2 separate regions of the Homo sapiens genome follow, and region 1 is linked to region 2. The links come from fine-mapping of genetic effects on gene expression. A gene starts in region 2. The other region holds a variant in brackets. All regions are shown on one strand. Distances are from middle to middle. Region 1 overlaps ATM (ATM serine/threonine kinase). Region 2 holds the start of POGLUT3 (protein O-glucosyltransferase 3).

What was found.
Region 1: its variant is fine-mapped to the expression of POGLUT3 in whole blood (TOPMed, PIP 0.98).

What each region holds. Positions count from the first base shown.
Region 1 is chr11:108,237,967-108,240,882 of GRCh38, reverse strand. All of the region lies in intron 5 of ATM (ATM serine/threonine kinase), which reads right to left. Among named protein-coding and RNA genes, the nearest start is that of ATM, 16 kb to the right of the region's middle. The variant T/C (reference allele first, on the strand shown) is at 1,492.
Region 2 is chr11:108,496,801-108,499,716 of GRCh38, reverse strand. It overlaps POGLUT3 (protein O-glucosyltransferase 3), which reads left to right and starts at 1,333. Exons shown (of 8, transcript NM_153705.5): 1 at 1,333-1,552. The coding sequence starts at 1,351. LOC112267909 (a long non-coding RNA gene) reads right to left here and starts at 656. Exons shown (of 3, transcript XR_007062880.1): 1 at 67-656. RefSeq lists a silencer at 1,181-1,700.

The sequences.
Region 1 (2,916 bases), 260 kb after region 2:
AAAAAGTTATAGTAGCTAATGTTACTTTAGTATTGAAGAAAGAAAAACATAAATTTTTAAATTTGGTACAGAATAAGAGTTTACAAATTCTACAGTAGTATATAGTATCCCAGGCCTTTACATTACCACACATTTACATACCCAGAGCAACTTCCAGTCCTGCAAGCTCCATTCATGGTTAAGTGCCCTAGACAGGTGTACCATGTTTTATCCTTTATACTATACTTTTACTGTACCTCCTCTATGTTTATATATGTTTAGAGACACAAATACTTGCCATTGTGTTACAGCTGCCTACAGTATTCAGTATAGTAACATGCTGCACAGGTTTGTAGTGCAGGAGCAGTAATACCATATAGCTTAGGTGCGTAGTGTTATACCATCTAAGTTTGTATAAATACACCCTATGACGTTCACGCAACAAAGAAATTGCCTAATGATGTATTTCTCAGAACATATCCACATTGTTAAGAGACGCACAACTGTATATGACATGCTGGAAAAGGCTAAACCATGGAGATAGCAAAAAGATCCATGGTTCCCACAGTTTACAAGAAGGAAGAGATGAAAAGGTGAAGCACAGAGGATTTTTCTGACAGTGAAAGTATTCTGTATGATTCTGTAATAGTGAAAAATTGTTACCATTCTCTCCCAGAGGAAAAAAAAATATGACCATCTCATTAGATACAGAAAAAGATCTTTAAAAATGTCAAAACACTTGTCAAAATCCATAGCATATGTACCACCAAAAGTGAACCTTGGACTCTGGATAATAATGATGTGTCCCAGCATAGGTTTACTGATGGTAACAAATGTACCACTGGTGCAAGATGTTGACAGTAGGGCATGCTGTGTGTGTCCAGTGGACTTTCCACTCCGTTTTGCTGTAAATTTAAAATTCCTCTAAAAGATAAAAGTCAATTTAAAAAAATGGAAACCACTAGGTTTGAGAAACTGAATAATTGACAGTGTAGCTTGAGCACAGAAATTAGAAGCGCTTTAGTTAAGTTAGACAGGTAGGAAGAAGCAAAATTATGCAGCACTTTCAAGGCCTAGAAGAGGAATCCTCATTTTCTATTAGTTGTGCTAGTGAGAATGTAGAGAAACTGGAACCCTTGTGGGCTGCTGGTGAGAATGTAAAATGGCGTAGCTCCTGTGTAAAACAGGATGTTGGTTCCTTAAAAAATTAAATATAGAATTACCACATGATCTAGCAATTCTACTTCTGGGTATATAATCAAAAGACTGAAAGCAGGAAACTCAGGAGATGTATACTCATGTTCACGGCAGCATTATTCACAATAATCAGAAGGTAGAAACAACCCATGTCCACCAATGGACGAATGAATTAACAAAATGTGGCATATACACAGAACAGAATAGTGTTCAGTTTTTAATAAGGGTGAAATTCTGACAAAAGCTGTAACACTGATGAGCCTCAAAGACATTTTGGTAAGTGTAATAAGCAGGTTGCAAAAGGACAAATACTTA[T/C]AGGAGTCCTCTACTTCAGGCTGCTATAACAAAGTATTATAGGTTAGGTGGCTTAGAAACCACAGAAATTTATTTCTCTCAATTTTGGAGGCTGAAAGCAGCTCAGGTGCCAGCATTGTGGGTTTCTGGTGAGGGCCCTCTTTGGGGCTGCAGACTACTGACTTTGAACTGTATCTTCACATGGCAGAAAGACAGCAAGTTAGCTCTCTGGCCTCTTTTCATAAGGGCATTAATCCCATCCATGAAGGCTGGACCCACAGGACCTAATTACCTCCTAAATCCCACACCTCCAAATACCATCCCTTTGGGAGTTAGATTTCAACATAATTGGTGGGACACAACATTCAATCCATAAAAATGAAGTACCCCAAATAGCCAAATTCATAGAGAGAGAAAGTAGAATGGTAGCTGCCAGGGGATAGGGGAGGGGAAAATGGTAAATCATTGTTTACTGAGTATAGAAAAAAAAGTTCTGGAGATGGATGGTGGAGATGATTACACAACAATATGAATGCACTTAATACTACACAACTGTACACTTAAAAAAGTTAAAATTATAAATGTTATATATATTTTACCACAATAAATCACACTGGAGGTCCTAGCCAATGTAATAAAGCACAAAAATAAAATAAAAGCCACATGGCTCAGAAAGAAAGAAAAAAAAATTACTGCTTACAGAAGACATGTTTGTCTACAAAGAAAATCCAAAAGAACATTCAAAGAAAGCTACTAGATTTAGTAAGTGATTTTAGCAAGGTCCCAAAATACAAGGTCACTATACAAAAATTAACTGGACTTCTGTATAATTTTTGTGCATTGAACAATTTGAAAATCAAAATGTTAAAAACAATGCAATTACAAACTACTGCAGTATAAATCTAACAAAACATATACAAAATCTTTATGTTTATACAATTATAAATAAATGTCAATTTGCAGCTGGGCATGTTGGCTCATGCCTATAATCCCAACACTTTGGGAGGTCAAGGGAAGGGTATCACTTGAGCCCAGGAGTTTGAGACCAGCCTAGGCAACACAGTGAGATCCTGTCTCTATTTTTTTTAATATATAAAATTAAAGAAAAAAAATTGTCAATTTACAACAAAAAATCTATATGCTGACAATTATAAAACACTAATGAAAGAAATCAAAAAAGACAAGTGGCCAGACGCGGTGGCTCAAGTCTATAAACCCAGCACTTTGGGAGGCTGAGGCAGGTGGATCACCTGAGGTCAGGAATTCGAGACCAGCCTGGCCAACATGAGGAAACCCTGTCTCTACTAAAAATACAAAAATTAGCTGGGTGTGGTGGCACATGCCTGTAATCCCAGCTACTCAGGAGGCTGAGGCAGGAGAATCGCTTGAACCTAGGAGGTGGAGGTTGCAGTGAGGTGAGATCGTGCCACTGCACTCCAGCCTGGG
Region 2 (2,916 bases):
CATTAACAAATTTGTATCCATTAACAAATTGGATAAAATGATCAAAAAAGAGAGGCAGATAGTAACCTTGACAATCTCTTCCTGGATCCAGCGTTCATCTTCTGAGGAGTGGTGGAGGTGGCTGAGACCAACCACGCACCACCACCCCTTCTCCCACTTCGATTACAGAGGCTTTGAGGTAAAGCTCGCACAAGGGCTCAAGGCAAGGCCTGGTCTTCTGCCACCCCAGTGCCCAGCTCCTCACTCTGGGCTTGGCCCAAACTCCGTGGATGTTCTGTAAACACCTGCTGGAAGAAGAGGAGTGCGGGAGGAAGCGGGGAAAGGGATGTGTGGGGTGGGGGGATCACGGTTCTGTGAGGGAGGCTGCTAAGCAGAAAAGCAACAAAACCGGCCACAAGAGAACGGTGCTGCTGTGAACAGAGGGCTGTGAGGGAGGGCGGGGGGCGTGACCTTGGCGCTCATCTTGTAAACTCGGAGACATTCCTTGGGAAAAGATATTTCCCTAAACTACATCGATCTTGGGGCCGGACCCTTTCATCGTCCCACAACAATCACCACCGGGTCTACGTCCTTTAAAAACACCTGAGCGGCGGACCCGGTGGCTCATGCCTGTAATCCCGGCACTTTGGGAAGCCGAGGCGGGCGGATTGCTTGAAACCAGGAGTTCAAGACCACCTTGGGCAACATAGGGAGACCCCGTCTCTACAAATAGTAATAGTAATAATAATAATAATAATAATAATAATAATAATAATAATAAATTAAATTAGCCAGCGTGGTGTCGTGTGCCTACAGTCAGTCCCAGCTACTCGGGAGGCTGAGGCGGGAGGATCTCCTGAGCCCACGAGTTCCAGGCTGCAGTGAGCTGTGGTCGCGCCATTGCACTCCAGCCTAGGCGACAGAGCCAGCCCCCTTGTCTGTATAAAAACAGAGAAAGAAAAGAGAAGAAAGAAGGAAAGGAAGGAAGAAAAAGAAAGGGAAAGACCACTGGAAGTGGAGGCCAGGCGTGCCTGAAGCCTTGGCAATCAACAGCCAGCGCACACTCGCAGCCTCGGTCTCTGGGCGGGCCTCTCCACCCCTTTCCTCCACGGGGCCTATGGGGCTGCGGGGAGGAAGGGGCGCACCCATCGTCGACCCCTACAGGGCGCGCAGTGGGTGATTGCGGCACTGGCTCGCGTTCCCGCCCGAGGGAGACGAGGCGGGACAGCGGGCGGGAAAGGGAGCCTGCGCCGCAATCTTTCCCGCCCGAAAGACCCGCCCCGCGGTGGGCCCCAGTCCCCGCCCGGTCCGCGGCGCTGCCGGCCCCTCCTCGCCGCCGCGGAGCTGGACCGCAGTTGTGCCCCGCCGACCATGCGCCGCCTCCCGCGGGCCCTGCTGCTGCAGCTGCGCCTCGCCCTGCTGGTGGCCGCGGGGGCCCCGGAGGTGCTGGTCAGCGCGCCGCGGAGCCTGGTGTGGGGGCCCGGGCTGCAGGCGGCCGTCGTCCTGCCGGTCCGCTATTTCTACCTGCAGGCGGTCAACTCGGAGGGCCAGAACCTCACTCGCTCTCCCGCAGGTAGTGTCCAGCCGCCGGCCTCCCTCGTCCCGCGGCCGGGTCCCCGCGCGTCCCCGCCGCCCGGGAGTCCGCCCGCGGCCTGCGTGGCGTCCCTCCCCGGCGTGTGTCGCCCCTTTTTGGGTCTGGTCAGCTCCTCTTCCCTCCTCCCGCCCATACTCAAAGCGGGCAAAAATCACCACGAAAGTTTGTGGAATGAATGAATGAATGAACTTGAAGGGCCCTTCCGCATTTAATGTGCAGGGACTGATGTTGCGAATGGACGGCGCCCGGGCGTTACAAGGAGTGTGCCGTGAGTCACACGTTGCCTTCCATCTCGGACTTAGTTGTCTGAACTGTGAGGGATTGCAGGGAGCGCTTTCCAGTGGTGAGTCATCAAGCCGACGGATCGCGTCGGATTACATGGCTTAGGCCTGGTGGGTTTGGAGCAACGAAATCCTACGCAGAGGAAATGTCAGAGCCGTAGGAAGGAGGAGGGGTTTACGTGTTAGTTTTTTGTTTCCTTTTTAGTTCTGAGTTTTTGAAAGCAGATTACAGGAACTAGGGAAACTCAGTAGAAATCATTCGGTTTTCCCTCCACGGAGGGTGAGATGGATCTCGTCCTGAATCCCTTTCTGCCCGGTCCTCCTCCCACGTTGTCCTTCACGTCTTAACCTTTGCAACTTCTTAAAACTTGTCCTGCTGGTTTCACGCTGTTGTCAGTCAGGATTTGCTAATGTATAATTTGGGGCTCTGGCCAACTAGCACCTTGTTGTATCAGCGAAGAGACAATTAGAATAAACCAGTGCCTCTGCCCCTGCTAGTCCAGCTGGGAACATAGCTGCCAGAAGTGTGTCCCAACTTGGGAAAGGGGTAAGGGGGTCTTGACAGCTGGGCAAAGCAGAGAATTTAGGAACCAAACATAATTCACTTTTAGATTTAATGATTTTTAAAATTTCATTCATTCAAGAAATACTTCTTTGATGTCTACTTCTGTGTTTGGTAATTCTGCTGGGAATCTAAGGATGAAAAGACAATGCCTGACCATCAAGGAACTTACAGTCTGTTGGTCAAAGACATGCAAATAACTGATCACTGTACAAGATAATTGAAGGTATGTACAGAGTGCAGTGGCAACATTGAAGCACTGCCAGAGACTGGAGAAATCCAGGAAGATTTCAGGAGCAGAGACTTGAAGGATGAGAAGGTTTGCTGGGCAGGCATATAGAAGGACGCCATGGCATGTGCAGAAGCACAGAGGCGTAGGAGACCGTGGTGTTCGGGAAAATAAGTACTGTAATTTAATGATACTGAGCGGAAAAGCCTGGTTGATTGTAGCCTCTGGTCTTCAAGCGCCTTGAATGCCAAGCAAATGACTTTATAACTAG